Homo sapiens: one gene and its partners. The protein of the gene in region 1 interacts with the protein of each later gene in a pairwise test. Each region holds a gene or a part of one and is shown on either strand. Other genes may lie near its edges. The genes, in order: ITGAM, ELOVL4, SYT2, KASH5, KIR2DL3, ARL13B and PIGP.

Region 1 (3,500 bases):
GTCACATACATACGTGCGTGTATGTGTGCATACTGAGTGATAGCAGCGTGGAACCAAGCCTGGCACACCACAGGTGCCTTGCGCACATTTCCCATCCCTGTTTCTGCATTTTCTACCATCGATTTTCCTCCCCAGCCTCCTTCTCAGGACCCAGACGTCCCAGCTGCCCACCTGATATTGATGCTGCATGACCCGACTGGTATTCTCTGAGGCCGTGAAGTTGAGATATTTAGTGGAGACCCCATGGCTGAAGGGAGAAAAAAGGGACAGGAGGTGACAAAACATGAGGGGTGCCCTGGGAGGGTGTCTCAGGCTAAGTGTGTAAGGAGCGAACAGGCACATGGGTAATGGGTATGAAGTCCTGGGGGGTGGAGATGGGGTGGGGTGCAGGGGGATGGGGGAACCAATGTGTGCTGGACACACAGTGCGTGCCCATTTGGGCCACTCACACACACGTGCACAAATGCACACCCATGAGCACATACACACATGCACACAGACCCTCAGACACACACACGCACAAATACACACCCATGCACACATACATGCACATAGATCCTCAGACACACACACATGCACGAATACACACTCATGCACACATACATGCACATAGACCCTCACACACATGCACAAATACACACCCATGCGCACACACATGCACATAGACCTTCACACACACACATGCACAAATACACACCCATGCGCACACGCATGCACATAGACCTTCAGACATACGCACAAATACACACCCAGGCACACAGATCCTCATACACACACATGCACAAATACACACCCATGCACACAATGCACATATATCCTCAGACACACACATATGCACACACACCCATGCCCAGACACACATGCACATAGATCCTCACACACACATGCACAAATACACACCCATGCACAAGGATCCTCACACACACGCACAAATACACACCCATGCACGCACACACACATAGATCACACTCACATCCACAAATACACGCCCATGCACACATACACACATGCAGATACATCCTCAGACACACACATGCACAAATACACGTCCATGCACACAAACATGCACATAGATCATCACACTCACACACCCATGCCCAAATACACACCCATGCACACATACATGCACAGAGATCCTCAGACTCTCACACACACACACATGCACAGACTCATGCACACAGATGCACAATCAGCCATGTCCAGCCCAGAAGTGGAGGCTCAGCTAAAGTCCTGGAAGCCAGCACCTGGTGACCACCATGTAGACAGCATATTTCACCGGCAGCTCCAGTTGGAATTCGGTTTTGTTGGTTCTGGGCATGTTGTTCTCACTGGAGGGAAAGAAAGAGCTCCAGCCGGCTCTTGAGAACTGACAGTTAGTCTTTGCTCCTCCCTCTCCCTCACTCCCTGCCTCCAATCAGCCACCAAGTTCTGTTATCTCTGCATCTGAAACCCCACTGTTCTCCAACCCCTGCCCCCGCCTAGCCCAGGCCCATCCCTCTCCAGCTGGATGTCTGCAACCACCTTCTTCTAACTGGTCCCCTGAATTCACACCTGCTCCCACCCCAATCGCCAGCCCTCCTGAAGAGTGATCGTTCTAACATGCAAATATGATTATGTCACTCCCAGAGGCGAAACTGCAAATCCCAAACAACACCCGTCAGTCATTTTGGGACATGGCCTGTATCTAACCACCACCAACTCCTTCAGCCCTGCATTTCATGCTGAGGCCACTCTTAAACACACCCTGATCTTCCCGTCCCTGGTATCTGCTTCCTGCCTTCTGTCTTCATGCCCGCCCTCAGTTCATGCCTTTGCTTTGTCTAAATATATTTTCTTTTTTTCCCTTTTATTTTTTATTATTATTATTATTATTATTATTTTGACACTGGGTCTCACTCTATTGCCCAGGCTGGAGTGCAGTGGCACCATCTCAGCTCACTGCAGCCTCAATCTTCCAGGCTCAAGCAATTCTTGTGCCTCAGCCTCCTGAGTAGCTGGGATTACAGGCATGCACCACCATGCCTGGCTAATTTTTGTATTTTTTTTTTTTTGTAGAAACAGGGTATTGATATGTTGTCCAGGCTGATTTTGAACTCCTGGGTTCGAGCAATTGTTTTGCCTCAGCCTCCCAAAGTGCTGGGATTACAGGCTTGAGCCAGCACGCCCAGCTCCTAAATATATTTTCTTTAGGAATCTTCTCTGAACACCAAACTCCCAAGAACACTGGCCGTCCCCCATCTAATCTTGCATCTCATACTGGATTTGAGATGGATGCAAGATTAATGGCTAGATTTCTTGTCTGTCTTTGCCACTAAATTATCATCTCCGAGAGGGCAGGAACCACTATCGTCTGATCCACCACCATCCCACCAGCACTCAGCACAAGGCCCAGCACGTGGTGGGTGGTCAGTGAGTGTTTGCTGAGTGAACAAATGAGTTGAAGGGAGAACCAGTGGGCAAAGGGCAAAGGCCCACCATGGGCCAGGGGCTGGGGCGTCAGACGGGCAACTGCCTGCAGAAGCCTGGTAGCAGAGAGCACCTGGTCACATTGGCCTTGAGGAGCAGTTTGTTTCCAAGGGAAGCCTTAGAGTCTACATCAAACGTGATATTAAAGGTGACCTGGAGTGAGAGAAAGGAGAGACAATGACAGAAATATGAGAGAAAAAATAACCCAAATGCCCGTCATCTGATTAATGGAGACATGAAATATGGCCCATCCATGCAACAGGATATTGTTCACCAAATAAAAAGCAATGAAGGCCAGGTGCGGTGGCTCACACCTGTAATCCCAGCACTTTGGGAGGCTGAGGCAGGTGGATCACCTGAGGTCAGGAGTTCGAGACCAGCCTGGCCAACATGGCAAAACCCTGTATCTACTAAAAATACAAAAATTAGCTGGGTGTGGTGGCGGGCGCATGTAACCCCAGCTACTTGGGAGAGTGAGGCACAAGAATTGCTTAAACCTGGGAGGCAGAGGTTGCAGTGAGCCAAGATTGCACCACTGCACTCCAGCCTGGGCAACGAAGTGAAACTCCATCTCAAAAATATATATAAAAAATTTAAAAACAATTTTTTTAAAGCAATGAGGTACTGACATATACTACGACATGAATGATCCTTGCTAAGTCCTTGCTTAATATTATGCTAGGGAAAGGATCACATACGGGATTATTTCATTTATATGAAATGTCCAGAATAGGCAAATCTATAGACAAAGTAGATTAGTGGTTGCATAGGGCTGGGGGATATGGGAGGACTGGGGCTGAGGGCCAACGGGAACAGAAGCTCTTTGTGAGGTAATGAAGATGTTCCAAAATGGATCATGATGACGGATGCAAGACCCTATGAATTCACTCAAAGCCACTGAACTGTATACTTTATTTTATTTTATTTCATTTTATTTATTTTCAAGACAGGGTCTCACTCTGTCGCCTAGGCTAGAGTGCAGTGGTGTGATCATAGCTCACTGCAGCCTCAACCTCCCAGGCCCAGACGATCCT
Region 2 (3,500 bases), on another chromosome or scaffold:
AACAGTTTTGCTGGAAAAAAATTTTATTTACTATAAAGAATGAGGTTTCTGAATCCCTGATAAATGTATATTTATTTGAAATTGCTTTACCTATTCCAAGAATAAAGAAAGTGATATCTATATCTAGACTTTTAGAGTCAGGTAGGACCTTACAGATTACCTAATTTAACCCTCTTAATTTACAGAGAACAATGCTGAGAATTGGGAAGGCAAAGGAACTTGTCCAAACTCTCATAGCAAATCAGCAGCAGACCAGGACTAAAACCTAGGTCATCTAAATCCCAGTCCAGAATTCTTCCCATTCACTATACCACACTGCCCTCCTCACTTCCACACAAGGCAATGCTTCTGCACAGACAATGAAGAGAACAATCATATCTGATTTTATATGTCTTGGAATCTTCATTTTTTATCTGTTTTGTGCTTCTAAATGACTTAATGGCCTGATTTACTCATTAAATTTAGTGAACGGCAACTGAATTAATGACCAACTCATAAAAAATATCATTCTTTTAAAGAACTCTCTGGCCGGGCACAGTGGGTCGTGCCTGTAATCCCAGCACTTTGTGGGGCTGAGGTGGGCAGATCACATGACACCAGGAGTTTAAGAGCAGCCAGGGCAACATGGTGAAATCCCCACTCTATGAAAAACAAAAACAAAAACCTTCTGTAATTTAGTGTGGTCTAAAGCCTTATTCATGTTTAGCAACCACAATATATCATGATTCAAAATTATGCTAGATTAAGAGGGTCATCTCCTGATACATATCATATCAACAAATATATGTGATAATCTCTGATGTTGGAGAGAAAGATACAAAGGAGTGAAGTGGTAAATAATAACGAAAGTTTAAACAGTTTGACACTAGGGTCATAGAAGGAATGGCACAGGAAATACGTGAGTAATTACTAAAGACAATGAGCTCCTGTGAGACAACAACTTGCTCCAGGGTACCATAAACAAGAAAGGCTTTGCAAAGGAGGACTATTGTACTGGGTTCTGGTAAAAGGTATCTGGAGAGGTAAACAGGGAAAAGGTGGGTAAAGGCAAGGGGAATGGTGGGATGAGAAACATAAAGGTGGACATGTACACATTTTACTTAAGGGTCAGTGAGTTATCCCAGTTGGCTAGAGCTGCAGGTCTTTGGGCAGGGGAATACTGAAGGATCAAGCGAGAAAGTTAATGTGGACCTTGGCTTTAAAAGGCCATGTGTTTCCTCCCATCTCCTTTCTGAAATCCAAACCCACATGATTTTAAAATATATATTCTAATAGAAAATAAAACAATAGTACCTTCGTTTGTTAACAGGCAAAATGTCCTGATAATGAAGACGAAAAAAACATCTAAAGTGAAAAAAGATAGACTGTTACACTACTCATTTCGGTGTGCTAATATATGCCTAATTCAGAATAATAAGTGGCTTAACAAATGAAAATACTTACGTTAATAATGTTAAAGCATTTACAGGTGACATTATCCACAGGACTTGAGCAAAAAAATAAGAAAACAAATTGAATTTTTAAAGGATGACCAAGTGCTCTGTGGCTCTTAAGTTTACAAAAGTGCCATCTGATATAATTATCTGCATAATTCTTAAAACTTTGTCTTCCTAAGCCAAAGAATCTAAGTTAAAATAGTTAAAACTGTGTCCTGACACCCGTTTTAGAACCTGCATTGTTTACCCTCCTGGAATTCCATCTGCAATAGGATGTTTTACTTTATGCTATCATTGGGGAATGGATAAGAGCATTAGCTATTAAAGTCTAGCAGTCTACCACCAAAAATCAAACTGTGGTGAAGGAAAAGACAATAAAAACCAAACCAAAACAAAAAACCATAAAATGGCATGGACATCCCAGAGGCTTCAAGGAGCTTATGAGTAAAGGATAATTAGGACGTCACTGAAAACAGTGACCAAGGGAGATCCCATGTTAGGAGCTGGTGATGTTTCTTTCTTTCTTTTTTTTTTTTAATTAGCTGCCTACAACTTGGAATCAGAATGTCTTTTCTCAAAGAAACATTCAAAGAAAACTGCATTACCAGGCTTAGCCAAACAAATAAACCTATTTTAGATAATAACATAGATGAAAAACTAAACATTAACTGTGACGAATAATAAAATTAATGTAAGCATACTGTACAATACTTAAAATACATGCTCCTCTGGGACCTAGCAATCCCTAAGACAAACCTGCTTTTACTTCAGCTTATTTGAGCTGAGTTAAACATCCCCTCCCACTAGCCCCCAGCTTCATCAAACCTGGATGACTCACTGGCCTGACCCTTAAGCACCTTCCCAGTTTCCATGGTTTTCAGTCAAGCTGTTCCCCTTGCCTTTGACACCTTTTGCCCTAGTATGCCTCTCCAAATACTCTGACAGTACTCACATCAACTCCTCATTCAAGGGTAGAGGGAAGTAAACTGTGGTGAAACAGCTAAAATATTCTAAAAACAACTGTATATTCCTTTCACTTAGGAGAAGTAGAGATGAGAAGAGCAGGGAAGGACTTTTCTGATCTTCCCTAGGCCCCAGCTAGTCCTGAGTCTGACAGATCACACTGCCTCCAGACCATGATATCAAGGAAAGGGGAATGACAGTGACCCCCTAGACTTTGCAAGATGCATGAGGGCAGTGACCAAGTGTCCTCCTTTCCTTTCCAGAGCCTAGAACTGTGCCTGTACATGGCAAGTAAATACGGAAAGAAATGGTATCATAAGCCTGGCTTCCACATTTCGTCATCCTACAGCTCTCCTCCCTCTTCCTGTACCACTCATCCCTTCTTTCTGACCCCTCCAAAGTTAATTCAAGGACCCAGCAAGTTATGTTCTAACTGCAACTACCAAGTAGACAATTTTTTTCACCAAAATGCAGGGTACTATATCTGCGAAAAGAGGGCCAATGCCAATCATTACCACCCCCAACCAACAGACAGCACCCATACCCTGTGAACAACAGCTATTTAGAAACAAATGGTCAGAAGATACATGGCCTCACAGGAGACACCTGGCTTTACCGTAAGCATCCTACTAACTCTCTAGGGTGTTTATATGCTAAATGTCAGGTATGCAAAAAAGCTATTAAACATTTATTAAAAGCATGAATAAATGAATAATGTAGATAAGTTGGGTATTCATAGATTGGGGAATATTTAGATTCATCAGTTTAAAAAATGTATATACAACTTTTATTAGATGTATACGTTGAGCCTAGGACTCCAATCCTAATAATTTAAATGTACTCATGAAGTGAAAGAATAGAAGAAAAAAACTAACATGATGACATGGAATACCTACTCTAATACTAACAACTAGTATAAAGTCCTACACCAGCCTATACTTTAACATAAACCAACGCTAATTTCCTCGTTCAAAATGTCTACAAATACAGAGAAATAAAAATTATTTTTGTTGTTTTTCTAAAAGTATAGCTCTTTCAAACTTTCAATTCCAATGTACAAAGTGTTAATACTGTAGTAAAAGTAACATTTTTGTTGTTAAC
Region 3 (3,500 bases), on another chromosome or scaffold:
ACAGTCAGCCTGAGCAGCATAGCAAGACCCTATCTTTAGAAATTTTTTTTTTTTAGTTAGGCATAGTGGGGGCTGAAGTGATAGAGGATCACTTGAGTCCAGGAGTTTGAGGTTACATGAGCTATGGGTGATTAAGTAAGGTTCTGTCTCTTAAAAAAAATAGTACATATATGTGCCAAGCACTGTGCAAAACACTTTCCATGCATTATTCATCTAATCCAAAAAATAACCTAATGGTTTTTATTGGTTCCATTTAACAGATGGGGAAACAGGTTCAGAGAGGTTAGATAGTTTTTCCAAGGTCACTTAGCTGTAAGTTCTGAAACTGAGGTTTGAACTGGTCTGCCCAACTCCAGAGCCTGTATAGCTAATCACTCTCCTATATCTCATTGAAATCTAACCTCACCACTCTAGGAAGGAGACAAGGTTTTACACTGAGGGCTCCTCTTTCAACCTCTCTCCTTGACTTCCAAGGATTTCTAGATACTACTCTGCCTAGAATCTCTGCCCAGCTCCATGACACTTGACTCTCCTCATCCCTGACTCCAATTCCTCCTCCTGCCCCGCGAGACTCCTCAGCTCTCTGCGGTTTCTTCACGGGCTCCCTCAGTGCCCACTCAGGGTTTGTTTTGACCTCTCCTGTAGGAAGACGGCACCCACATCTCCATCTCTAGCCCTTCCTCCCCGGTCTACTCTGTGGCCCCTACTCCAGGTTCATCTCTAGCCCTGCCCCCACATGCAGCTGTAGATTAGCCTTCCCGCATCAAAGATGTGATGTTTATTAATAACATAACCCAGACTTACTGTAGAAAATTTGGGGAGAGAGAGAGAAATCCCCCCATAATTCTACCCTCCAAAGTCAACTAGCATTTGGGGCATTCTATGCTGGTATTTTTTCTGAGTATGTTTTACATGTTGAGACCATACTATGTATAGTTTTTTTTCAAGATTTTTTACATAAAATTTCATCATAAGCCTTTTCCTTTATTGTTTTTTATTATTAAATAGCTACATAATATCCTACTATATGGTAACACCATAATTTTTTTAGCCATTCCACTGGTAGACATTTAGGCAGTTTTCAACTTTTTCCTAGTAAAACACTGAGCATAAATGTTGGTCTTCATTTAAGGCAATGTTCTTACGAGCTTCCAAACTCTGCCCCCCATAATTCTGTCCTCTCCACCAAGCTCTTTCTGCTCCTCAGGGCTATGCACTTATTTCTCAACTGAAAGTCCCATGAGGGCAGATCCTGTGTTGGCAACAGCACCCCTTGTGCCAAGCACACAGCGGGCACTCTGGGTATTTGTTGACTGGGCTCCTCTGAGGGAACATAGCAGCATACACCCACAGGTATTCCAGGATGCAAGAATAAACAGCACAACTCCCTGAGGCATCCGTTTTACTGAATGGCAATTTACAGTATTTTTAAATTAAAACAAGCTGGAAATAATAGAGTAGGATGCATACAGCACAAGAATTTAAAGAAAAAATGTGAGACTTTTCTCACTGCACGTTAGGTATGAGTTAACTCTCCTCTAGACTCAGGGTTCTTCTGAAGGAACATTTTAGGAGCTCTTAAGTTCTGTCCCTTCCTTTAAAAACCTGCTGAGATCCCCTCCCCAGCCCTGGAGACTGCTCCAGCCTTAAGTACTTCTGGTGGCCTGTACATTGATGCAATGTAGGTTCATTCACCAAGCATTTATTTAACTCTTACTGTCTGCCATGTTGAAATAGCCTTGACCCCAAAACTGGTCTTGAAGTGAAAAACCAAGGTCCACTGGACTTCGCCTCTGGGGACAAAGAGATGGGTCCGGTTTGGCGGGAACTGCAAGTAGCCACACAAAGGGATAAAGATGTGTGTCCAGGGCCTTCCGCCATGTCCATCTCCCCTCACTTCTACCACACTGTTCAGGGCTCTGTGACCTTTTTTTTTTAAAAAACAGCTTTATTGAGATGTAATTCACATATGTCACCCTTTAAAGTACACAGTTCAGTGCATTTTATTGTATTCACAGAATAGTGGAACAATTAGCATAACCTAAGTTAGAACATTTTTGCCACCTCAAAAAGAAACCCAGTCCCATTAGCAGTCACTCTCCATTCCCATCCTCTTCCCAGCTCCAGCAACCACTAATCTACTTTCTGACTCTATAGATTTGTCTATCCTAAACATTTCCTATCAATGGAATTATAAAATATGTGGTCTTTGTGACTGGCTTCTTTCATTTAGTATGATGTTTTCAAGGTTCATCTATGTTGTAGCATGTATCAGTATTTCATTCCCTTTTTATTGCCACATAGTATTCCATTGTGTAGATAGAAAACATTTTTTTTTTTTTTTGAGACAGGGTCTCACTCTGTCACCCAGCTGGAGTGCAGTGGTGCAACCACTTACTACAGCCTCCACCTCCAGGGCTCAAGTGATCATCCCACCTCAGCTTCCCGAGTAGCTGGGATTACAGGTGCATGCCATCACACCAAGCTAATTTTTTAATTTTTTGTAGATATGGGGTCTCCCTATATTGCCCAGGCTGGTCTCGAGCTCCTGGCCTCAAGCAATCCTCCCACTTCAGCCTCCAAAATGTTGGCATTACAGGCATGAGCCACCGCACCTTGCCTAGAACATATTTTATATTTATCCATTCATCAATTTATAAATATTTGGGTTATTTCCACTTTGGGCTATTTTATAACTAAATATAGCTAATAATATCCCACTTGTGGGATATTATGAATAATGCTGCTATGAACATCCATGCATAAGTTTTTGCGTGGACATATGTTTTCATTTCTCTTGGGTATATACATAGGTATGGAATTGCTGGGTCATAACTATGTTTGACATTTTAAGGTGCCAGCACCAATTTATGTTCCCACCAGCAATGTATGAGGGTTCCAAGTTTTCCACATCCCAGACAACACTTATTTTTTTATTATACTTTAAATTTTAGGGTACATGTGCACAATGTGCAGGTTAGTTACATGTGTATACATGTGCCATGTTGGTGTGCTGCACCCATTAACTCGTCATTTAACATTAGGTATATCTCCTAATGCTAACCCTCCACCCTCCCCCCACCCCACAACAGGCCCCAGAGTGTGATGTTCCCCTTCCTGTGTCCATGTGTTCTCATTGTTCAATTCCCACCTATGAGTGAGAACATGCGGTGTTTGGTTTTTTGTCCTTGCGATAGTTTGCTGAGAATGATGGTTTCCAGCTTCATCCATGTCCCTACAAAGGACATGAACTCATCATTTTTTATGGCTGCATAGTATTCCATGGTGTATGTGTGCCACATTTTCTTAATCCAGTCTTATCATTGTTGGACATTTGGGTTGGTTCCAAGTCTTTGCTATTGTGAATAGTGCCGCAATGAACATACGTGTGCATGTGTCTTTATAATCCTTGACTTATAATCCATGACTTATAATCCTTTGGGTATATACCCAGTAATGGGATTGCTGGATCAAATGGTATTTCTAGTTCTAGACCCCTG
Region 4 (3,500 bases), on another chromosome or scaffold:
GTCAAAGAGCAGGATGCAGACACGAGCATGGGAGATAGAGGCCGGCTGCTGCAGGGAGGACGGAGGCAGGGGCGCTGGGGAGGGTGGGTGTGGCATCCAGCCCACCTGTGAAGCTGCTTACGCAGAGCCAAGATCTCCTCCCCAAGGCGTGCTGACCCCTCCTCAGCTGTCTCCATGCTCCGCTGCAATTTGGCATTCTCCCCAACCAGACGTCGGTTGCTGAGCTCCAGGTCCTCCAGGCTGCTCAGCAGGTCAGCTGTGGCTTGTCTAGGGGCAAGGAAGGGGTTCAGGTCACTGTCCACAGCCCCTGACTCATTTCCCCGGGTCGAGGTAGGTGCTGGTGGTGGGGAGATGTGGCTCTTTTGGGGAAAGATAAACAGGAGAGAGACTCCTCTGCTCTCCCTGAACTTTCAGCAAAGCCCCGTCCCTCATTCATTTCCCTGAAGGATCCCAAGCCCTACCCGGGCCTCGGCAGGCTGGAGGGGACAGGGTGTGGGCAGGAGGGTCAGGGAGGGGTGTGAGGATAGGTACAGCTCGGGTCTGGGGTCTTCGCCTCCGAAGCTCTCCAGGTTGGCTGGCTCCTCAGCTTCTGGGCATCCTGGAGGGAGAGAGCCAAGAGAATGTTGGCTTCCCTGGAACCCTTAAACGTAAAGTGCCCCAGGGCTCTGAGGTTGGACTCCATCTGCCTCCACCCTCACCTGTGCTCTGGAGAATCTCATGGGCTTTTGGGGCTGCAGTTATACCCACTGTAAAGCCCTCTTGCTTGTCTTCTACCTTGAGCTCAGGCTGGATCTCCCAGATAACCCTAACTCCCCACATTCTTTACACCCAACACTGGGCAGCACTTCACCTTCCCCTTCCCAGATCCCCCACCGACCACTCAGCCACTGGGCGGACCTGGCTCCCTTGCTCCCTGTCACCCCCAGTCCAGCAGAGCCCAGACTTCTCCCTCCTGCCCCTGACTCTCTGCTCCACCCCTCCTCTCTGTCTCCATGCCCCGGCCCTTGCTTTCTCCTCTTGGATCCTCACCAGAGCCTCTTCTCTGGCCTTCTGGCCTCTAGTCCCTCCTCTGCTTGCAGCCCTCCCTGGGCCCCCAAGCCTGATGAAGGAGGTTGAAGAGAACTTCCTTCCCCACCGTTTTTTGTATGGCTAGAGAAATGGAACATGACCACCATTTTTTTTTTTTTTTTTTAAAAGACAGGATCCTGCTCTATTGCCCAGGCTGGAGTGCAGTGGTGCAATGCATGGCTCACTGCAGCTTTGACCTTTCAGGCTCAAGCGATCCTCCTGACTCAGTGTCCCGGCTAGGACCACAGGTACATGCCACCGCACTCAGCTAATTTTTTATTTTTAGTAGAGATGGTGTCTCACTATGTTGCCCAGGCTGGTCTCAAACTACTGGGCTCAAATGTTCTTTCCACTTTGGCCTTCTAAAATGCTGGGATTACAGGCTCACGCCTGTAATCATGACCACTTTTTTTATGGAGCACCTCCTATGTGTGAGGTCCTGGGGATACAATGGTGAGCAAACCAGCCAACTAAACCCAGGTGCCAGTGGCTAACTAGATAATCAGATTTCCTCTGCAGGTGGATGTTCCAATGGAAAGGCCTACAAGTCTAGGAGTGAGCATGGGGAGCAAGGAACTCTAGCCAGGGGCATACCAGGGCTTCCCCTTTGCCAGAGGAGTGGATGACGGCTTGGCGCAGTGGCTCACGCCTGTAATCCCAGCACTTTGGGAGGCCAAGGCAGTTGGATCACCTGAGGTCGGGAGTTCGAGACCAGCCTGACCAACATGGAGAAACCTCGTCTCTATGAAAAATACAAAATTAGCTGGGCGTGGTGGTGCATGCCTGTAATCCCAGCTATGCGGAAGGCTGAGGCAGAAGAACTGCTTGAACCCAGGAGGCGGGGGTGGCGGTGAGCTGAGATTGCGCCATTGCACAACAGCCTGGGCAACAGGAGTGAAACTCTTATCTCAAAAAAAAAAAAAAAAAAAAAAAAAAAGTCCAGCAGGGTGGGGAGCAAGGAGTGGAGGGGAACAGCCTGAGCAAGGACCTGTGCTGGGCAGAAGTGGGGCACATTCGAGGAAGGGCAGCAAGACCAGTGGGCCTGTGAATTCCTGGACTAGAGTGAGGAGAGGTGATGTTAATGATGGAGCAGAGGTAGGCGGGGCCTCGTAGGCCTCTCTAATAGGGCTGGTGTGAGGAGAACGAGTTGGAAACCACCCTCTGAAGAAAAGAAACCCAAAGCTCACGGAAGGAAGGGACGGAGGACCTAGAAAGCCACACTCACAGCTCTAGTCTACAGTAAAGGTCCCTGGTTCCTACCCTATCCCTTGCTCTGCCCTGGGTGGTAAGTCCCCACACTGTCTGACCCAGGGCCTGCCTGCTTCATTCTATATATAGCAATCTCACCAGATGGCAGTTGCCGGGAGGTCAGGGCTCCCTGGAAGGCGGTCTCCTCTTCCAGCTCTAATCCCCTGTATCAAAGGGATGAGGCTTAGCGCCCCACTGTAGCTGCCCCTCAGTCCTCACCAGCCACAGGCAGGGGGATTGCAGGTGGGAGGAGGGGACCGGGTCAGGTGAGAGCTGGCACCACAGGGTAGGAGGGTGAGGCCAGATGGCAAGTGCCCGTGGCCAGATGGAAAAGCAGGAGGGGCAAGGAGTGGGTTTGGTGAAGGGTTGGGGAGGGACCTCTGTCAGCCCCAAACTCCTCCCTTCTCCAGCCCCATTTTATTTCTGTCTCCCAGACCCCCTCTGCTTCCTCATCCAAATTATTTTGTCCTCAGACTCCCTATCTACCCCCTCTGAATCCCGTCTCTTCATTTTTCTCTCCACAGCCTCATTCCAAACACAGTAGGTCCTTGGGCCTAAAGGATGCTGGCTCCAGTAAGCAGGTATGAGGTTAGATCTTAGGAAGGACTTCCCAGAGGAGGATGAAGATGTGGGGACTCACCCATGTAGTTGACAGGCAGCAATCCAGTCACGCATGACAACCAGGAAAGTGTCCAAGTCCACAGTGGCCTTAGGGCCCTCCCCATTGGGGTCCAGGCTGTTGGCCAATGTTTGGAGGCGTGCATCCTGGGGGCCCTGGCCTGTCACAGCCTCCAGGTAGGCCAGCACCTGGGCCACAGCCACAGTGCCTGTGACAGAGCATGCAGTGAGGGGGTCTGGGGCAGGTGGGGAGTGATGGGTATGGACTGGCAGCAGCTTGGGACCAGGATGTCACTGGCTAGGCTGGTGGCACTCCTGCTCCATGGCCCAGTGGAGACACACTGGGCAAGCCCTTTCCCCTCCTCTGAGTCCACTTTTTCACCTGGAAATGGGGCCCAGTCATCCCCCCATCACAGGGTAAACCAAAGGGGATGGACATAGGGACAGCATCAGCCATGCCCCACGCCACCATGGTGGCTGCCTCCCTCCCCTATCCCACGACCCCAAAACTCTGCCCTCTTCCATCAACGTCCCCCAAGTTTTCCTCATTCTAAAAGGCCTTCACC
Region 5 (4,270 bases), on another chromosome or scaffold:
GCTGGAGTGAAGTGGTGTGGTCTAGGCTCACTGCAACCTCTGTCTCCTGGGTTCAAGTGATTCTCCTGCCCTCAGCCTCCTGAGTCGCTAGGATTACATGCACCTGCCACCATGCCTGGCTTTCCTTGGGTTGTTTCTTAACTTGTCCTTGACCTGGGTTCCAGTGTTGGTTTCCTGTTGCTGCTGTAGAAAATTATCAGAAGCATGGCAGCAGGAGAGACCACACTGACACCTTCCAGTACTGGAGACAGAAATTGGACCCTATTTTTCCTGGGCTAAAATCAAGGCATCTGCAGGGCTTTGTTCCCTCTGGAGACTCTGGAGAATCAGTTCCTTGACTTTTCCAGCCTCTATAGGCCACCTGCATTCATGGATCTTGGCCTTCCTCCACCTTCAAAGCTGGTGAAGACTTCCACTGGACTGCTCTAATCCCCACTCCCCTCTTCCTCCTCCTTTCATGTGCACCCTTGTGATTACACTGAGCCCAGTGGGACAGTCCAGGCTGTCTCCCCATGAGCTCCATCTTCCCCTTCAGTCCCTTCCCCTATAACATAAATAGTCACAGACTCCAGGGATTAGAATGTAGTCATCACTGGGGACAATTATTCTTCCCACCACAGCACCCATTTCCCTGTATTCAATCCCCCTTTACCACAAATACAGTCAGGGCCTGCGTGATGGGACCCTCAAGGACATGCCCAACAGAAGCTCTGGGATTCAGGAGGTGGGACAAGGAGAATCCAAGACAGGAGCCCTCTGACCTATGACCACGATCACCAGGGGGTTGCTGGGTGCTGACCACCCACTGGGGGAGTGTGTGTGTGAACCCCGACATCTGTATGTCCCTGTGTGTGCGGGGGTCACAGGGCCCATGAAAAGGCTGTTCCAGAATATTCTGTTGTAGAGCTCAGGGACAGGCACCCCACCTTCCTTTTACAGACTGAAGTTGTTAAACCCAAGATAAGAGTGACACCGAAGAATGACATGTCCTAGAGGCACCACAAGGCTGGGCCAGGCAGACAGCAAGGGCTTGTCCTGACCACCTTGGGGAGAAGGAGGCGCCGCCTTAGAGAGGAGGATGTGGAACTGCCCTTCCCTCCCTGTGCTCAGAAGATTCTCCTCGCTTTCCACGTTTCTATGGCTACTATCACACCTTGGTGCCCAGGGCTGAAGGAAGGACCCATCCCGCAAAGACATGGTGTCTCCCTACAACAAAAGCCTCAGCTGAGAACTTTGAGCAAGTGCTGAGTAAAGAGACTCCTACTAGATTTTAATACTGTAAGATTACTCACATAAAACAACACAGGGTAGACATGAGGTGGAGGGCATGTCCTTTGTGAATGGATATCAGCGGATGCCTGAACGAAAATAAACAACTGAGCCCCCATCAGAGGATTTGGAATGTCAGGGCCATGGCTGTGGTTTCCCACCTCTTCTGGTAGAATGACAGCAGCCACACTGCAGCCCCTACCATCATGGAAACGCTGAAGTGTGTGAGTAACACCTTTGTCCTCAGAGGATCTGCTGTTCCTACCACTTCCCAACCACACACCCCAGCTTTGAGCACCCCAGTCTAACCCTGGTCCCCACAGAACTTGACTCTGCCAAGGGGTTGAGAGGCCAGGGAGGCGAGGTCAGAAATGTGGGCTGAGCACCCCAGGGTCCTCTCTTCCTAGTTTATGAGAGACTCCCCGACAGGACTTCCCTCCTGTTTCAGGAAAATCCTCTTATGTGGGGAGATGACACCCGAAGGTTTGGAGAAGGACTCACCCTCATGTGGCCAGGCCCCCTGCAGCAAGAAGAACCCTGGAAAGAAAGATCATGATGGACCATCCATCTGCAGGCAAACCAGGCCTCCCTTGCTGCCCCCACTGGGCTGTGAGTCTTGGCAGCCAGGCCCTTCCTGGGCTGAAGTTAAACTCACCCTCAGTGCCTACCTGCACCCAAGAACAGGGCTGTCGGCTGTGCAGAGACCCAGTTTCCAGGCCCATATCCCCACCCCAAGCCCATATCTCCACTCCAGGCTGATATTTCCACCCTAGGCCCATATCGCCAATCCAGGCTCAGATCTCCACCCTAGGCCCCTATCTCCAATCCAGTCCCATATCTCCGCCCCAGGCCCAGATCTCCACCCTAAGCCCATATCTCCACTCCAGGCCCATATCACCTCTCCAGTCCCATATCTCCACACCCAGGCCCATATCTCCTTCCTAGGCCCATATCTCCACTCCAGGCCCAGATATCCACCTCTAGGCCCATAACTCCACTCCTGGCCCATATCTCCACTCCAGGCCCATATCTCTACTGCAGGCCCGTATCTCCACCTCCAGACCCATATCTCCACTCCAGGCCCATATCTCCACCTCCAGGCCCATATCTCCACCTCCAGGCCCATATCTCCACTCCAGGCCCATATCTCCACTCCAGGCCCATATCTCCACTCCAGGCCCCTATCTCTACTGCAGGCCCATATCTCCATCTCCAGGCCCATATCTCCATCTCCAGGCCCATGTCTCCACTACAAGCCCATATCTCTACTGCAGGCCCATATCTCAACCTCCAGGCCCATATCTCCACTCCAGGCCCAGATCTCCACTCCAGGCCCAGATCTCCACTTCTAGGCCCATCACTCCATCTCTAGGCCCATAACTCCACTTCCAGGCCTATATCTCCAACTCTGGGCCCCGATCTCCATCCCCGCACTCCCTCCCTCGATGCCCTTCCAGGACTCACCAACACACACCATGCTGACGACCATGAGCGACATGGTGCTGTCTGTGCAGACAGGCGGCCGCGCCCCAGCTCAGCTCAGCAGCGCACAGGATGTTATTTGGCGCCCTGCCCATGCAGTTTACATGTTGACCACATCATGGGAGGGTGACGTACGCAGGCTCTTTCTACCTTGCATGAGGCCCAGTGGGTGCTCGCTCAAGAGCGGAACATGGCTTCCTGGAAATTGTTCTCACTAGAATTGACACCTTGCGTCCTTCACTACGACCAGACTCAAAAGACGTCTCAGATCCAACCTCTCATACACGAGATGATTGAATTCTGTGCTTACATTAAAGATTTTTGATGTATTTTTGTTTTTATCTGAGATTCAAACTCTTCTTCATATGTAATGTGCAAAATGTCTAACAGGTATTATTAACATTATCAGAGTAATTGTGACAAGAAGCCATTCTAATTTTCCTGCTTGAGTTTCTACTACTAAACCAGAGGCATCAGAATAGCTTGAACCTGGGAGACGGAGGTTGCAGTGAGCTGAGCTCAAGCCACTGAACTCCAGCTTGGGTGACAGAGGAAGAGTCTGTCTCAAGAAAAAAAAAAAAAGCAAACTAAATAACCTATAATAACAAATCAGAGGACTCAGGTTACCAAATTTTAAGGGGTTCTATAAGTTTATATAAAATGCAGCATCCTCATGAGAGGGGATACAGAGAACCACTGGACAGAAAACTGTGTCTAAAATACATCTGTGGATACACAGTCCCTTTATAGTTGACAAAGGCTGCCATGTAGTTTAAGGTGGAATAGAATATTTTCTCAACAAATAACACAGGACCATAGGGTTACACGTAGGAAAAAATAAATCTAAACTTATCCTCACACTATAAAAACACTTCTTATTTTTTATCTTGTTGTTGTAAATTTTTTATGCTTTATTTTTAAGATTGACAAATAAAAATTATATACCATGGTCCTTCACTATACCTGGGTGATTGGTTCCAGGATCCCCATTCAGATACCAAAATCTGCAGATGCTCAAGCCCCTTGCATGAAATGGCATAGTGAAGCTGGGCACCGTGGCTCACGCCTGTAATCCCAGCACTTTGGGAGGCTGAGCTGGGTAGATCACAAGGTCAGGAGTTCAAGACCAGCTGGTCCAACATTCTGAAACCCCATCTCTACTAAAAATATACACACAAAAAAATTTATCTGTGCATGGTGGCACGTGCCTGTAATCCTAGGGGAGGCTACTGGGGAGGCTGAGGGAAGAGAATCGCTTGAACCTGGAAGGCGGAGGTTGCAGTGAGTTGAGATCACGCCACTGCACTCCAGCCTGGGTGAGAGAGTGAGACTGTCTCAAAAAAAAAAAAAAAATAGCATAGCAATTGCATAGAACCCATGCACATCCTCCTGTATACATGAAATCATCTCTTGATTACTTATAATTCCTGACACAGCCTACACGCCACTCAATTTGTGTCGATTCAACATAGTTTTTTGCTTTTTGAAACTTCGGGGATTTTTTTTCTCAAAATATTTT
Region 6 (3,500 bases), on another chromosome or scaffold:
CGCCCACCTGCAATCCCAGCTACTCAGAAGGCTGAGACAGGAGAATCACTTGAACCCAGGAGGTGGAGGTTGCCGTGAGCTGAGATCGTGCCATTGCACTCCAGCCTGGGCGACAGAGGGAGACTTCGTCTCAAACAAAACAAAACAAAACAAAACAAAAAAAAGAGATACTCAAACTGTATTATCAAATAATTAATGATGTAACCTTTCCAGAAGTTGAAAGTGAGCCGCTTACTCCTAATATTATAGTCATCCCTGGGTCTTTGATTACTAGAAAGGCTGAGATACAAAGGACTCTGTAGTATTATAAGATTTACAGTATGTTATACTAGTAATAAGTAACATAAGAGGTATTATGGGTACTCTGAAATGTAGCCACAAATTTGGTGTTAGAGACCTGAGTTCAAGTGCCAGATTTGCCATTTCTAAGCTATATGGCACATTACTTTTCAGAATTTCATGAATGAAATAGGATAATAACAATAGCTACTCTAAAGGGATATAATGAAAATTAAATAAGGTTTCAATGAGCTGGGATCATGCCACTGCAGTCTAGCCTGGGTTGACAGCATGAGGCTGTTTAAAAAAAAAAAAAAAAATTAACCATAGCATTTTTCTGCTTAAAATCCTTATAGAGAATCAAGTCTCAATTTGGCAGCCCCCACTTCTGCCACTCCCAGGAAGCCTGCCATGCCGAGGATTCCTTCCATGCCGAGTACTCCTTCAGCCCTTCACAACCATCCCCGGCTACTTTTTATACAGGCTCCTCTACCAGAACTTCTCTTTATCAGCTCTGTAGTGCCTGTATCAAATGTGTTGGGCACACAGTAGGCTTCTTTACTGAAAGAAACAACAAACATTTTCTGAACCCCATTTGCTGAGTAAATACTAAGTAAAATTAAAATACATAACTTTAGATTGAGAAAGTACTATAATGAAGCTAATTTATATAAATCTTCACATCAAAATAGTTCATATTAAAGAATGTAATTATATCCATATATATCAAATTGGCTGAAGTTTTCTGAAAAAGCTTACATGCTCATGGTTTCAAGGTACTAATTAACAGAAAGACTTTCAAAACTGAAATAGGGGTCTCAGCAGCTCGGGCAGCGGGAGGAGTGCCAGTAGCCAGGCAGCCCAGCTTCGCGAAGGCTCTCAGCTCCGTGGCCCACAGGTGCCCAGCAAGTGCCCCTCCTGCCGCCAAGATGCCCAAGAGGAAGGTCAGTTCAGCCGAAGGGGTGGCGAAGCAAGAGCCCAAGAGGAGATCTGCGCACTTGTCAGCTAAACCTGCTCCTGCAAAAGTGGAAATGAAGCCAAAGAGGCATCAGGAAAGGCTAAATCTTCAGATTAAAAAAAAAAAAAAAATGCAAACAAATGGGAAAAGGGGAGCATAGGGAAAACAGGCCAAAGTGGCTAACCAAGAAACTAAATAAGATTTACCTGCAGAAAACGAAGAAACTAAAACCGAGGAGACTCCAACCTTTGATGAAGCAGGAGAGAAAGAAGCCAAGTCTGATTAATATCATATACCATGTCTTATCAGTAGTCCCTGTCTCCCTTCTTGTACAATCCAGGGTATTTTTATCAACTGCTTTGTAAGTGCAAGTCTTTTAGTAGCTCTAGAAACATTTTAAGTAGCAGGAACTCCCACCTCATTCCATTGTTAAGTTTTTTCTGAGGTGAAATAATTCTCTGGTTGTTTATTTTTTGGTGAAACCAGAGAATAGTATGGGATATTGAATTACAGGAAGTTTTGACTGTCTTGGATGTCAGCTTAACATTCCACAGATGGGGGCTTAGTTTTTATATACTGTAATACAAAATATACTAAATGGCAATACAGAGTCAGAATCCTGCATTTAATGTCTTGAACATTTTAAATTACTTCTATTGCCATGTTTTTTTTTTTTTTTCACAGAATTGTTTCCTAAAGAAAACCACTCCTTGATCATGGCTCTCCCTGTCAGAACTGTGTACACTATAACATCTTTGGTCACAGAAGTCCTGATTTCCTAATAACTGTGTTAATGTGCTGTGAAAGATTGAAAATTTGGGTATATAGTGTACATGCTATTAAACTGTGAATTGGTAGAACGTGTACAGCTTATCAAACACTTGTAGATACTGGCTCTTGATAATCCTCTTAAGAAAAATTTGCCTCCAAATGTTAAGTTGGAATGTCACTATAATAACTATTTAAAAAAGAGGCCGGGTGCAGTGGTTCACACCTATAATCACAGCACTTTGGGTGGCCAAGGTGGGAGAATTACTTGAGCCCAGGAGATTGAGACATGCCTGGTCAACATGGTGAGACCTTGTCTCTACAAATTAAAAAAAAAAATTAGCCAGGCATCGTGGCATGCACCTCCCAGTTACTTGGGAGGCTGAAGTGGGAGGATCGGTTGAGCCCGGGCAGTCAAGGCTGCAGTGAGCCGTGATCACTCCTCTGCACTCCAGCCTAGGCAATAGAGAGAGACCGTTTCAGAAAAAGGAATTACAATAGAGGTTTTCTAGATTTTTGGTATGTATGTTAAGAATTGTGTACAATTTGAAATGTCTGTATACTTATTCTCAACACGACAAATAAAATCTCCATTACAAAAGAAAAAACTGAAATAATTCTTAGTAAAAACAAAAAAAAATCAAAGGTAGAGATTAAGGGATCCAAAGGTCTGTTTTACATCACTTTAGCTATCTGCCGAAACAAGTGAAGACTTCCATACTCCAGAAGCTAATAATTAATATTGTTCAAGTCAACACAATGTATATAATAGATCTCCTAAGTGAGAATATGAGAATATCTTATCTCAGAATTCCTTTTTATATAACGGATATACAAATTAATATATCAGAAATACTGGTCAGGCACAATGGCTTATGCCTGTAATCCCAGTACTTTGGGAGGCCAAGACAGGAGGACTGTTTGAGCCCAGGAGTTTGAGACCAACCTGGGCAATATGGTGAGATCCTGTCTCTATTTAAAAAAAAAAAAAATCAGAAATATAAGCATCATGGCATTAGGGAGGATTGAACTTAGAAAACATTTAAATTCTGAATCTTTCCTGAATGACATTATCACAATCATTTGAACACCTACAAGTCTAAACTTCCTCATCTTTTAACTAAGGAAGACAATACTTTCAATATGATAATTAGATAAAAGCTATTCCTTTTTTTTTAGAGACGGAGTCTCATTCTGTCACCCAGGCTGGAGTGTGCAGTGGCGAGATCTCCACTCACTGCAACCTCTGCCTCCTGGGTGCAAGCAATTCTCCTGCCTCAGCCTCCCAAGTAGCTGGGATTACAGGAGTCTGCCACCATGCCTGGCTAATTTTTTGTATTTTTAGTAGAGACAGGGTTTCACTATGTTGGCCAGGCTCATCTCGAACTCCTGACCTCAACTGATCCATCCACCACGGCCACCCAAAGTGCAGGGATTACAGGTGCGAGCCATCATGCCTGGCCCATAAAAGCTGTTTCTAACTTCAAAAATATTA
Region 7 (2,599 bases), on another chromosome or scaffold:
AATTTAAAAAACATGTTGGCTTTGTGACCGACTCTTGAGAATTACAACTTTTTTAAAGTGTCTATTATGTACTTTAATATTCTCTTTGGCAGATATTGGGCAGTTGCATTACCTGTCTACCTCCTTATTGCTATAGTAATTGGCTACGTGCTCTTGTTTGGGATTAACATGATGAGTACCTCTCCACTCGACTCCATCCATACAATCACAGGTAACTTTATATAAAAGGAAAGTGCTGGGGCAATGAAAGAGTGGAGTATTAGCACTTTTACCCAGAAAAGCAACAAAGAACAGGCTGCAAAACCCATGTTGGTGGTGCGCGTCTGTAATCCCAGCTACTTGGGAGGCTGAGGCAGGAGAATCACTTGAACCCAGGAGGCAGAGGTTGCAGTGAGCCAAGATCCCACCACTGTACTCCAGCTTGGGTGACAAGAGTGAAACTCCATCCTAAAAGAAAACACACACACACACACACACACACACACACACACACACACACACGGACAGTAAAAAGAAGCTACTAAGAGAAATAAATACAAACTTATATAAAAGGAAATATTTGCATGAAGGAATTAAGTTCTGATGAATACACACTAGCTATATTCATGGAGGAAATAAATTATAATTAATTATAGCACTGGTTAGCAGGTGTATGTTCCCATAAAAACCACAAGTATATGCTATATGTGTCTATAATATGTTCCCATTAACTTTGCCTGAGAGAAGCTTATCCTGAACAGACACCGTTGATCAAGGGATAGTAAATAGTACATGCAGACCTTGTTCAGAAAAAGGACTTTGGGGGTGTGTATCCTCCTCAGGATCATTGTGTACTCCTTATTCCAATTAAGTGGATAAAAGAGCCACAACACGTTCGTCTGGTTTTATTTTTTTAAAGTTCTTTCAAGTCTAAAGATGAAAATAAATCAGACTCCTGAGCTTGCTTAAATTCTAGAAAGTAAAGTATTTTTTAAGTTCCCTGGTATGATTTTTCAACTTTTCAAAACCTTTATATATTAGCCTCTACAATGTATTTTGAAAATCAATTCTATTATTTTTAAGTGTCTTTCTAATACACTGCATTCCATGCATTCTTGATTGGAATTGGCAGCAAATAGGTAATTTGTGCAAAGAGGGGAAATTGTTAAGATTGCATGAATATTTATACCAAATGATTTAATAGTTTTGCCATGTTGATTTAAATACATTTTCAAGGCCTGGATATAATTCTGTTCCCGTGAGAAATGTGCAAATGAGACTTTAATCATCATTGTATGGTTGATTAAAATATTGATTTCTTTCCAAGTTAGAGATGAAAAAAGTACTTTACTGATGTTTTTATTTTTTTATTTTTATTTATTTATTTATTTATTTTTTATTTTTTATTTTTGAGATGGAGTCTCGCTCTGTCACCCAGGCTGGAGTGCAATGGCGCAATCTCGGCTCACTGCAGGCTCCGCCCCCTGGGTTCACGCTGTTCTCCTGCCTCAGCCTCCCGAGTAGGTGGGACTACAGGCGCCCGCCACCTCACCAGGCTAATTTTGTGTGTTTGTGTTTTTAGTAGAGACAGGGATGTTTTTATTTTAATTGGGACATTTCTTCTAAAGAGAGGATTTAAGTAATCATCTAATTATGTTAAACATGATGTTTGTCACTATCCAAACGTCAGCCTAGTAAACTATGTGGTGGGTCTCCATCAGACACAGAGACTGTAGAAGAAATTGCTTAGGTAAACAGAGCTTTTTGGTCTTTTCTTACAGATAACTATGCAAAAAATCAACAGCAGAAGAAATACCAAGAGGAGGCCATTCCAGCCTTAAGAGATATTTCTATTAGTGAAGTAAACCAAATGTTCTTTCTTGCAGCCAAAGAACTTTACACCAAAAACTGAACTGTGTGTAACCATAGTAACACCAAGCACGTATTTATTTATAAGTTTTTGCCATTATAATTTTGACCATAAATTAATTTGACCATCTCTCTTATTAATAGAGAAGTAAAAAATGTAAGTTGACCTTCTCTTAGATTATGTTCAATGAATATTGTAAATGTTCAAGTATTGTTAATGAATAGAATAAATACAATATTGCATTCCCATATAGCAGACTTAAAAAAAAAAATCAATGTCAGTATAATCAAGAAGTTCCTCCAGAGAGGCATTTATATTGTAATTTGCAAAGGGCAATGATGTCCTTCCTCCTGTTTGTCCTGAGGGGCCCAGAATTCAAACCCTTAGTTTTTGGGAAGGGTACAGTTAGTACTTGTGCCATCAGATTCATGTCTAAGACACAAATATTTGTTGAGTACTCACTGTGTACCAGGTATTTTTCTAGGCACTGAGGATGAAGTAATGGTAAGATTCTCTCTCAAAGAGCTTATAGTTTTAGAAGCAGGGTGAGGCAACTAAGCAAATAAACAAGGAAATATAATTTGATGAGTGCTATGCAAAGAATTAAGATAATGTATTCTAGAATGCAAAGGGATGACTAGTTCACATTGGGTGGTCAAGGAAGGCCTCTCAGAGAGAGGCTGTTGGGATCTAAGTATAAAGCAGGTGAGGCAAAGACCATAAGGTGGGAAGGAACTTGGTTTGTCCTAA

The links.
Region 2: the proteins of ITGAM (region 1) and ELOVL4 interact in binary tests that used the Homo sapiens proteins (3 or more experiments, as listed by UniProt).
Region 3: the proteins of ITGAM (region 1) and SYT2 interact in binary tests that used the Homo sapiens proteins (3 or more experiments, as listed by UniProt).
Region 4: the proteins of ITGAM (region 1) and KASH5 interact in binary tests that used the Homo sapiens proteins (3 or more experiments, as listed by UniProt).
Region 5: the proteins of ITGAM (region 1) and KIR2DL3 interact in binary tests that used the Homo sapiens proteins (3 or more experiments, as listed by UniProt).
Region 6: the proteins of ITGAM (region 1) and ARL13B interact in binary tests that used the Homo sapiens proteins (3 or more experiments, as listed by UniProt).
Region 7: the proteins of ITGAM (region 1) and PIGP interact in binary tests that used the Homo sapiens proteins (3 or more experiments, as listed by UniProt).

The regions. Positions count from the first base shown.
Region 1 is NC_000016.10:31,325,975-31,329,474, reverse strand, and holds part of ITGAM (integrin alpha-M isoform 2 precursor), read right to left. Parts: intron 2,620-3,500; coding exon 2,540-2,619; coding exon of another isoform or gene 2,497-2,539; exon of another isoform or gene 2,476-2,496; intron 1,329-2,475; coding exon 1,245-1,328; intron 248-1,244; coding exon 172-247; intron 1-171.
Region 2 is NC_000006.12:79,941,054-79,944,553, forward strand, and holds part of ELOVL4 (very long chain fatty acid elongase 4), read right to left. Parts: intron 1-3,500. UniProt on the Homo sapiens protein: Catalyzes the first and rate-limiting reaction of the four reactions that constitute the long-chain fatty acids elongation cycle.
Region 3 is NC_000001.11:202,605,955-202,609,454, forward strand, and holds part of SYT2 (synaptotagmin-2), read right to left. Parts: intron 2,987-3,500; exon of another isoform or gene 1-2,986. UniProt on the Homo sapiens protein: Exhibits calcium-dependent phospholipid and inositol polyphosphate binding properties. May have a regulatory role in the membrane interactions during trafficking of synaptic vesicles at the active zone of the synapse.
Region 4 is NC_000019.10:49,394,749-49,398,248, reverse strand, and holds part of KASH5 (protein KASH5), read right to left. Parts: intron 3,144-3,500; coding exon 2,957-3,143; intron 2,481-2,956; coding exon 2,416-2,480; intron 599-2,415; coding exon 532-598; intron 268-531; coding exon 106-267; intron 1-105. UniProt on the Homo sapiens protein: As a component of the LINC (LInker of Nucleoskeleton and Cytoskeleton) complex, involved in the connection between the nuclear lamina and the cytoskeleton.
Region 5 is NC_000019.10:54,737,043-54,741,312, reverse strand, and holds the start of KIR2DL3 (killer cell immunoglobulin-like receptor 2DL3 precursor), read right to left. Parts: upstream 2,801-4,270; 5' UTR 2,768-2,800; coding exon 2,734-2,767; intron 1,807-2,733; coding exon 1,771-1,806; intron 1-1,770. UniProt on the Homo sapiens protein: Receptor on natural killer (NK) cells for HLA-C alleles (HLA-Cw1, HLA-Cw3 and HLA-Cw7). Inhibits the activity of NK cells thus preventing cell lysis.
Region 6 is NC_000003.12:93,986,655-93,990,154, reverse strand, and holds part of ARL13B (ADP-ribosylation factor-like protein 13B), read right to left. Parts: intron 2,210-3,500; exon of another isoform or gene 1,093-2,209; intron 1-1,092. UniProt on the Homo sapiens protein: Cilium-specific protein required to control the microtubule-based, ciliary axoneme structure. May act by maintaining the association between IFT subcomplexes A and B. Binds GTP but is not able to hydrolyze fit; the GTPase activity remains unclear.
Region 7 is NC_000021.9:37,064,874-37,067,472, reverse strand, and holds the end of PIGP (phosphatidylinositol N-acetylglucosaminyltransferase subunit P), read left to right. Parts: intron 1-92; coding exon 93-211; intron 212-1,760; coding exon 1,761-1,891; 3' UTR 1,892-2,099; downstream 2,100-2,599. UniProt on the Homo sapiens protein: Part of the glycosylphosphatidylinositol-N-acetylglucosaminyltransferase (GPI-GnT) complex that catalyzes the transfer of N-acetylglucosamine from UDP-N-acetylglucosamine to phosphatidylinositol and participates in the first step of GPI biosynthesis.